2 separate regions of the Homo sapiens genome follow, and region 1 is linked to region 2. Evidence: fine-mapped expression QTL. A gene starts in region 2. The other region holds a variant in brackets. All regions are shown on one strand. Distances are between the middles of the regions.

Region 1 (5,207 bases), 590 kb before region 2:
AGCACAGTAGCAACTTCTTATTTTTAAGATGTCCATTTTAAGCTGGCACATTTGCTGCTCATTTTCCTGATAGCATACCTTAAGTTGTTGCTTAGTTTTAAACATAAAAACGAGGGGAGTTTTCCAGGACAGTGTGAGCTGACCTAAAAAAATCTTGAATTCTTTGGGTCAGTTTCTCATTTCCTAGCATTATAGATCCAATACGGGGCAGTAAGAGCCCAATGCTAGTCAATGCCTCATCTGTGATTTCCCACAAGAGTTCGTCTCAGGCAGCTTACCAAGAGGGCTAACTATAGGCCTAATAACAGCAGCCAGGATCTACTGCAAAAAACCTCTGAGACCTTTTCCTGTTGCTTCTGAAGGGCTCTAAGGTTGGCATGATCGACTGTAGGAGGGGCCGAGCCGTGAACATCCCAGCTGTTGCCATTCTTCCTTAACAAACTTTACATCCCCTCCTGCCTGTCGTGCAACCAGACCAGCCAAAGTTCTGACCATTTTCCTGGTTTCTGTGCCTACCAGTCATGAATTTTCCTCTTTTTGTCTTGAGTGTAGATGCTCTTTTCTGTAACTATTGTCTGCAAAAGGGTTGGGAACTGCACCTCCACCCCTCCCACCAATGATTCTCAATACTGGTTGTTACTAAGGGTAGAAGGGGACAGAGGGACCAGGCATGGAGTGAGATGGTGCGGCGCCATGCCAGTAAGCAAGTCTTCCCATTTACTTTCAGTTTCAAGCAATGCAGCAGCTGCTCAGGACTCAACCTAGTGAACCTCTCATGTTTTCAGTATGCCCAGACCTCTGTATCAGGCATTCCCCTCAATGACATCCCCCGATTGGGGGGAACCTGAGACTGACCATCACATTGGTGAGGAAGTCCTCCACCTGGATGAGAGTTTGGAATAACTAGGAGACTCTTTAAACCTACTTCCTGGCACTTAGTGTGTAAGAATTTCCCCAGTTCCTCCTCAATGACAAGCAATAAAGTGGAGGACCATTTATTGCACAGTTGACCATACAATTTAGTCAACATATTCACTGCTGATTCACCTTAAATCCTCTTAATTGCCCCATATATTAGTTTTCTATCACTGCTGTAACAAATTGCCACGAACTTGGTGGCTTAAAATAACAGAAGTTTGTTATCCTATAGTTCTGTAGTTCAGAAGTCCAAAATGGTTCTCACTGGTCTAAATTAATCAAGATGGCAAGGCTGATTCCTTCCTCAAGGCTCTAAGGAAAATTCCATTTCTTTGCCCTTTCCAGCCTCTAGAGGCCACCCATATTCCTTGGCTTGTGGCTGCTTCCTCCATCTTCAAAGCCAGCAACAGTGAGTCCAGTTCTTCTCACATTGGGTCACTCTAACCTTCTCTTCTTCCTCACTCTTCTTCTTTTAAGGATCCTTGTGGCTACATTGGCCCCACCTAGATGATACATGATAATTTCAGTATTTTAGGTCTGCTGATTTAAAACCTTAATACCGTATGCAACCTTAATTTCCTTTTGCTATGTAGTATAATATATTCACAGGTTCCAGGGATTAGACGATGGACATCCATGGCAGGGAGTTTGGGGGATTATTTTTTCCTTCCAGGGGTCGACAAGGCCCTCATCTTTCCTTTTCCAGAAAGCTACATCTCTGTGAGTGGCCAATCCTAATCACCAGAACTTCAAGAACTGTGAAGAGTCTGAGATATTACCCTACTTGCAAGATAAAAACCCAGCACAGTATCATGGATGCTGGCAAAAAATACAAGACTCCTCAGTAAGAGATAAAGGACTTTATAATACTTGTGGTAGCCGGAGTGTTAGCAGTTGTGCTGCTTCTCTAAGCCTCAGTTTCCACAAGGCAATGCAGAGGGCTAGATGATACCTGCACATACAGTGGGTTCCATTATATGAGAGAAAGCCTAAGTTTATGGACTCCAGATCTTTTATAATGGGCAATAAATCTGCCTCTCCTTTGTCCTGAAGGGAGAAATTAC[G/A]TTTAGTATAATTTCTAGTATAACCTGCCCTTTGTTCTGGAGGGAGACTCTGTCTTCCAGGGCTGCTTGCTGTATTAACAGGCTTGAAAAGATAAGTTGGAAAAAAGGCAGTCAGTGAGTCTGCTTTCAAGATGTGCAGAGACCTGTGGAGAGCCATCTCCCAACAGCCTCTCAAGTCCCTTTTAATCTATGGCAAATCTCCCAGATTCTCCTCTCTCTTGTTTTTCTCCTTGCTATTTATTTGTTGAAGAAACTGGGCCATTTGCCCTGTGCTATGTCCCACATTTTGGAATTTGCTAATTGTATTCTTGTGGTGTTATTTAACGTGTTCCTGTATCTTTATATTAATATGAACTGATGAATCTAGAGGCTTGATCAATTCAGATTTAATTTTTTTGGGCAAGAATACTTCATAGGTGGTGTTGAACACACTTGCTAATTCATCCCTCCAGGAGGCACATAATACCAAATATGTCTGTGTGTTCAGGGGTTCTCAGCCTGGTCCATACATTATAAAATTTCTGCAGTCTTTCACTCAGTAGTTTCAGCAGCCATTGATGATCAGTGCTTTCTTTTGAGACAGGGTCTTACTCTGTCATCCAGGCTGGAGTGCAGTGATGCATCACAGCTCATTGCAGCCTCGACCTCCCAAGCTCAGGTTATTCTCCCACCTCAGCCTCCCAAGTAGCTGGGACTACAGGTGTGCACTACCATGCCTGGTTAATTTTTTGTATTTTTTGTACAGATGGGTTTTTGCCATGTTGCCCAGGCTGGTCTCAAATGCCTGGGCTGAAGCGATCTACCCACCTTGGCCTCCCAAAGTGCTGGAATTACAGGCATGAGTCACTGCACCTGGCCTCGTGATCATTGCTTTTATTAGCATTTCTCAGCTGGAATTCTTCTGTAAAGAATAAATTTCCAAAATCAATTATTTGTGTACCCTGAAATGAAGTACTTGTGGGTGGGATAATAATTTTAATATAAAACTCAGTAATACCTCTTTCTTGATATATAAAACACTTCATTGGCAAACTGTTACTTAAAAGAATTCATGCTATTTCCATGATCAGACTCCAGCATACTTACCTGAATGTTTTTCTCATAATCACCTCCCTAATTGTCTTACTTCCATTTTCTGTTGCTTATAACAGAATACCTGAAACTGGGTAATTTATAAAGAAAAGGAATTTATTTCTTACAGTTATGGAGGCTGAGAAGTCCTAGGTCAAGGGACCACATCTGGTGAGGGCCTTCTCATTGGTGGGGACTCTGCAGGGTCCTGAGGTGGTGCAGGGTATCACATGGCTAGGGGATTGAGTGTGCTAGCTCAGTCTCTCTTCCTCTTCTTAGAAAGCCACAAGTTCCATTCCTGTGATAACCCCTTAATCTATGAATGGACTAATCCATTTTGGAGGGTGTGGAGTCCTAATTAGGGAAAAGGAGTTGGGCTAGTGGGACTGAAGGAAACAAAAAGATAAAGCAGATAAGCTACAAGTCTGCCTTTCTTCATGGTCCAGGACACATAGCCCTCCTGCACAAATAACTCGCAATCTTCCTGCTCCCAACTATTACCAGGCCTTCAGCTGATGTTATCAGTACTGCACAAAGCCCTCTTCAGCATACATCATAAACACCATTCTATAAAATCCCCAGCAAGCCTTTCTTTCCTTGCAGTTAGCTCCTCTCTTGCTGGTCTGCCCATTGCACCCTTGCAACATATTTTCCTACTTTCTCTAACAAATCTGCCTTTCTTCACCTACAACTGTCTTGGTAAATTCTTCTTACCCCTGTGCCACCGGCCCCAGATAGTCGCTGCCTACCTATGACAGAGGGGACAGATATTCAAACCATAGGACTGACATATAAATAGTATTCTCTCTTTTTTACAGAGCTGTTTGCTCTTTACTTAATTCACCATGTATTTTCCTGTTTCCACACTATTTTCCTTGTCTCTTCTGGAAAGTATTTCCCCCACTTATCTTTTCAATTAATTTTTTTCCCCAAGAGCCAATTTAAACTGCACCAACTTTATGGAACCTAAACTTACATCCCCAGTAGAATTGACTGTTTTCTATTTGGGGCCCACGGTGTACCCTGAATATATTTCAATATATTTATTTTATTTTATTTTATTTTTAGAGTCAGGGTCTCACTCTGTCACTCAGGCTTGGAATGCAGTGGTGCATCCATAGATCACTGTAACCTCAAACTCCTGGGCTCAAACGATCCTCCCTCCTCAGCCTTCCAGGCAACTGGGACTACAGGCTTATATCACCATGCCTGGCTAATTTTTAATTTTTTTTTAGAGGTGGGGTCTCACTGTGTTGCCCAGCCTAGTCTCAAGCTTCTGGCCTCAAGCGATCCTCCCAAAGTGCTGGGATTATAGGCATGAATATGTTTCTAACATGCCCTTTTGTTTTTTGTGGTTTTTGAAATTGAGTCATATTTGAAATATACTGAATTGCCCAGATCTTAAATGTATAGTTTGATGAGTTTTGACAAGTATATGTGTGTGTATATATATATGTACATATATATACACACCCATATACACACATATATGTACATATATATACACATCCATGCAAATTAAAATATAGAAAGTTCCCTCTTGACCAGTCAGTATTCTCCCCTTGAGGCAACAACCATTGTTAAGGTTTTAAATCCCTGTAGATTAAAATTCTTGATTGTCCTGTCTTTGTAATGGAATCAAACCATCTGTGTCTGACTTCAGTGTTTGGCTTCTGTTTGTAAAATAGCATAATGCTTCTGAGATTCTTCCAGGTTGTTGTGTCTATCCGTGGATTTTTCCTTTTTTGTTGCTGAGTATTCCATTGTATGAAGACACCACAATTTGTGTAGACATTCATGTGTTGATGAACATTTAGAATGTGTCTAGTTTCTGATTATCATGAATCAAGCCTGCTATGGGCATTCTTATATAAGTTTTCTGAGGATGTATGTTTTAATTTCTTTTTAGTAACTACTAAGAAATGGAATTGCTAAATTATATGGTAGGTATATGTTTAACTTTATTAGAAATTGTCAAACAAGGTCTGGCACAGTGGCTCAGGCCTGTAATCCCAATACTTTGGGAGGCTGAGGTGGGCGGATCACTTGAGGCCAGGTGTTCAAAACCAGCCTCGCCAACATGGCAAAACTCTGTCTCTACTAAAAATACAAAAATTAGCCGGGTGTGGTGGCACACGCCTGTAATCCCAGCTA
Region 2 (5,207 bases):
TGGGGAGAGCTGGGAAGGGGGAAACTAGGACAAACTTTGGAGGGAGCAGCTGGAAGTGGAGAGGACCGGGGGAGGGTGAAGCAGCCACCAGAGGTAAAACAGCTGGGGAGGGGAGACGCTGCGGGTGGGGATAGGCTGAGGATGGGGAGTGCTGGAGGAGGAAGAACAGCTGGAGGAGAAAGGCAGGCCGGGAGGGGAGCAGCCAGGGAGGGCAGTCACTGGGCCGAAGAGCGGGTGGGGAGAAACAAGGCCAGGGAGAGAGCTGGAAAGGGCATATCTGGGGAAGAGGAGTATCTGGAGAGGGGAGCGACCAAGTAGTGTGTAGCTGTGCTGGGGAGATAGCTGGGCAGGGGAACAGCAGGGAGGAGGAGGAGTGGGGAAGAGGGAGCAGTGCGGGAGGAGATTAGCTGGGGAAGGTGCCACCAGGACAGATCCTGTGGGGCCACTCACATCCATGAACTGGACCGGCTTGCTCCCAGGAGCAGGACCACGACTGGGCAGGAAGCCCTCACGTTCTTGCCTGTAGCTGGATAGGGCAGGGAAATAGGGGCCGATAAGAGGGAAATCCTGACCCCTGATCCCTGAGCCCACCTCCTTGGACCCCTGACTCACCCCACAGCATCCGAAGGGAGGGCTCCATTCATCTTTGGATCCTGCAGTTCCATCCTGTGGGCAAAGAAATGGGGTGGGGGGATCAGAGATGGAACGAGCATGCTTCAAAGTGAGGGGAGCTGAAGAAGGGGGGAGGGGAGTCCCATAGAGACCGATGGAAAGACGGAGAAAGAGACAAGGCAGGGGAGCAGGAACAGACAGGGATAGAAATGGAGGCAGACTGACAGAGAAAGAGATGAGAGAGAGAGAAGAACAAAAATCAGAGAAGGAGAGAAGCCAACAGTTAGTTACTCAGAGAGACACAGAGAGAGCCAGTGAGAGAGAAATAGTGGGGAAGAGAGAGACAGAAAGCTACAGAGAGAGCCGGACCCCAGCGCAGATGAGCCGACCACGTGGAGAAGGGATAGCCTCTCCTCCCAGACCCCAGACTCACGCTGTCTCTCTTGCCATCTGTGTCTTTCATTCCCCGGTCCCCCGCGCCACCCCCTCTCCTTCCCTCCACCCTCACCGCGTGGCCAGGCGGCTCACTCCTTGCAGGGACACGTGTCGGCCTGGCTGCCCCACCCCTCCTAATGCCCTCACCCCCCTCCTTCCCGCCTGGGCCCCCAAGCCCGAGACCAGAGCTAATGCAACCTGTTGAGTGAGCTGAGGGTTGGGGACAGACTCGGAGACCCCTGCCCCAGACGCTGCAAACTGCTCTCTGCCACGACTCTGAATATCCTCACTAGAAGCCAAAGACAAGTGCCCGAACCGAGCCCCTTCCCAGGGACAGAAATGACCCAGGGACTCCCATTTGACCCCAATTCTAGGGCCTAGAGGTCTTTTCCAGGGCCCCTAGCAAGTCTTAAACACTCATCTTCTGGCAGAAGTCAATTTGGAGACACTGCCAGACTTGAGAAACTTCCTAGGTGTGGGGTGTGGGGTGTCTCAGGAACCTGGCCCGAGCCCTCATTTCCCTCCGGAGGAAGAGCTATTTCTGAGACCTTCATCAAAGACCCCCTCCCGTGGCCTACCGAGTTTCCTGGGGTGGGGGTGTCTCTGCAATCCCCACCCGAGCCTGGAGCCCCTGTCTTGTAGGTACAGCGTCTCTGAAGAAACCCCAGCTCCCTCCCGCGCTTACTCCTTGGGAAGGAGGTATCTCAGAAACCCCCATTCAAGGTCCCCATTAGAGCTCAAACTGGCTCAGGAAATCCTTTTCCCAAGTCCTGAATCCCGTTCCTGGGACAGGGAGGGTCTCAAGGAGTCCCATCCCCCACCACCAGCACCCTCCGGAGCCTCCCACCCACACCTGAATTCACTTCCTGGGATCAGGGTACAAAAAGGACCTCCCCATACACGCCATTCCATTCCCCACTAGTGCTAAAATGTCTCCAAGGAACCCCGAGCCCCCTCCCAGGACCCCTACTCATATCTCAGGCCCCCAGGAACACCATCCCCGCAGCCCACGCTCCCTCCTCACCTACCTGCTCCTCTCAGCTCCTGAAGTGGCCGCAACTCAGACTCAGGTTCGGGCACCCTCTCGGCTGCCTAGGCTCCTGCTCTGGAGCGGTACTTTTTTTTTTTTCCTGAGAAGAAATGTTAATTTTAATTTCGTTTCCCTCCTTCTGGCCCTGGGCGGGGGAAGAGGTGGAGAAGGGGCGCCCCCTATCTGGACCCACTTGGAGGGAGACAGCGGTTTGTTTGTGTGTTGATGGTGGGGGAAATGGCCTGAAAGATTGAGGGTGTAGACCCACAGCTAGAGAGAGTGACAGGCAGACAGAGGGGATGGACTCACAGAGCAGACGGACAGCAGGATGGGATGGATGGCAGAAAAAGGTGCAGAGAGGAGACAGAGAGAGAGTAGGAGAACTGAAGTTACAAAGAAAGCAGGCATGAGAAACAGCACAGGAACAGACAGACCACAGAAGGGACAGAAAGACAGATGGGCGGGAGGAGGGGATGCTAGGGGAGCTTGGAAGACAGGCAGAGACAGGGAGAAAGGGACACACAGGCAGACTCAGAAACAAACAGGTGGGTAGGGATAGGCTCGTGGAAACACCTGCAGAAAGGCAACAGGCAATTGGGCTCAGTCATAGACAGGAGACACAGGCTGGCCAAGAGGTGGGGGACAGAGCCAGACAGCTCCCCAAACAGAGGGTAGGACCAGACACACCAGCTCAGAGAGATGAAGGGGCAGAGAGAGTGGTTGAGGCAGAGAGACTCCTGGAGGGACAGGAGAAAAGAGGCAGAGAGAGGCAGATTCAGGCAGAGAGGCCTGGGGACAGCAGGGGAACAGGTGCAGGGGTAGTAGCCAGGCTATTCCAGGCAGACCTCAGGCAGACAGCCTAGGCACGAGAGGACCCTAGATCTTGGGGGCCCCCAGAGGGAGGCAGGGAGGGCATTTGTGGCTGGGTGGGGAATGTGGACTGTGAACTCACACTGTCCGCAAACTGGGCGGGCACTGTAGTCCTGGACCCCACCCCAAGCGTGGGGTGGGGCTTGTCCAAGCCCTGAGAAGTCCCACTATCTGTCTGTCCGTCTGTCTTCTATGGGAGTCCGTCTGTTCACTCCCCTCCAGGCATATGACAGGCATGCCTGTCCCAGGCAAGCCACGTGTCCGCTACAGGATGTCAGGCAGGGTGGACTTGGGGTCTGGGACCACCTCGACTGGGCTGCTTGAAGCCCAGGTGGACAAGAGGCCTCTGTCTGGGCCCCTCGCCCGCCTGCCCACCCCCGACAGGGAACACAGAATTCCCGGAAAGGCCAGGAGCTGGCTGGGGCTTCAAAGCTGGCCTAGATGCCCTCACCCCACCCACAGTTGGAGGAGGACAAGGGATGGGGCGTTTACTTCCCCACAGCGGGAGAGAGACTCCTGCACACTCAGGAATCGCAGCTACACAACAGGACCCATCACAGCCCCATCAAGGGGCTCAGATACGGGGGCCAACTCGCCATCACTCACAGAGGTGCACAAAGACTCACAGCCACACAAGAGAATAAAGACTGACAGACATGAACACACACAGACTCACCACTGCACGTTAAGAGCAATGGCTCATGGGACAGTCACACACGTGGCCACACAGAGTGACGATAGTCTTACAGCTATCAATACCGACAGGCTCAGAGCCGCTCACAGAGAGCACAGACTAACACAGGGATAGGCTTGTGCCGATTTCCAGACACTCGAGACTCCTGAACCTCACCGCCCGTGGACCCACAGCCATGCCAAAGACAATCAACAGGCAAATCACACACACAGATTCACAGCCACACACAGAGCACACAATTACACACAGCTGATGACATTGTGTGTGGGTCCTGGGTCTTTCCCACACACACGATCCAGGTTCAGATGGCCCTGGATCTGAACCTGAATCCAGGTTCAGATGACCCTGGAGGCAAACTTCCAGGTTCAAGCCCTAAAATGATATCTCTGTGTATGTGAACTTGAATGTGCACTTGTGACCACATGTAACCACATACAGCTCCAGTCACAGAGAGAGGCACTCATAGGCTGACATGATTTTTGTACAAACAGAAAAGCCATAGTCTCCTTCTCTCTCTCTCTCCTCTCTCTCTCTCTCTCACACACACACACACACACAACTGCATTTCAGCAAATGGCTGCACACAGCCGTGTACACACACAGCTAGTCACAAATCAAGTCAGAAAAGAAACATATAGGGAAAGCATATACCTGCACACAAACACAAAGCACAGGAATGCAGAGTACGCTTACTATCGTTGCAAAGAAAAAATCCAGAAACCACACTGAAAGCTACACAAGGAAAAAACAAGAGAACCAGATAGTACTCATACCATGGCACCAGAAGAAACACCCCGAGGGCACACATACCTGCAGCCACTCGCTAAGAAGAGACACAAATACAGCAGCAGACACACAAAGAAAGATACGTGCGCATAGATACACATATAGGAGGGACAAGTACTCTGACACACTTGTCACCCACGACCATTACAAAGGAGACAAACACCCAAGCAACACACACACACAACAACATATAGATGAACTGCACCGACAGACAGTACCAATGCACACGGTTGCCAAAAAAAAAAAAAAAAAAAAGGTATGAGTTGGGCCGGGTGCAGTGGTTCATGCCTGTAATCCCAGCACTTTGGGAGGCCAAGGTGAGTGAATCATGAGGTCAGTAGTTCGAGACCAGCCTGGCCAACGTGGCGAAACCCCGTCTCTACTAAAAATACAAAAAAAATTAGCTGGGCGTGGTGGCGGGTTCCTGTAATCCCAGCTACTCGGGAGGCTGAGGCAAGAGAATTGCTTGAACCTGGAAGGCGGAGGTTGCAGTGAGCCAAGATCGCGCCACTGCACTCCGGCCCAAGCGACAGAGTGAGACTCCATCTCAAAAAAAAAAAAAAAAAAAAGCACAAGTTTGGCAGGCGGCCATAGACAGAACGCAGCACCAGGCAAGTTACATAGGAAGACGCAGGCACAGCTCACATACGTGTGGCTGTGGCTGAGAACGGGCAGGTGAGATACACTCAGCATATTCACACACACGTGCGCACACACTCCTGCCCAACCTCCTCCAGCCTCTGTCTCCTTTCCTATCTACTCTGATTTCTCTCTCCCCTC

What was found. PIP is the estimated chance that this variant, and not a neighbour inherited with it, causes the effect. A credible set is the group of variants that fine-mapping cannot tell apart.
Region 1: its variant is the best candidate, but not a certain one, in a credible set for the expression of SLC38A5 in visceral fat (GTEx, PIP 0.55).

The regions. Positions count from the first base shown.
Region 1 is chrX:47,877,674-47,882,880 of GRCh38, forward strand. The region is part of intron 2 of ZNF81 (zinc finger protein 81); the gene reads left to right. Among named protein-coding and RNA genes, the nearest start is that of ZNF81, 43 kb to the left of the region's middle. RefSeq lists a cis regulatory region at 3,113-3,653. The variant G/A (reference allele first, on the strand shown) is at 1,983.
Region 2 is chrX:48,467,260-48,472,466 of GRCh38, forward strand. SLC38A5 (solute carrier family 38 member 5) reads right to left here and starts at 3,001. Exons shown (of 17, transcript NM_033518.4): 1 at 2,923-3,001; 2 at 2,076-2,177; 3 at 613-666; 4 at 451-526. The coding sequence starts at 665.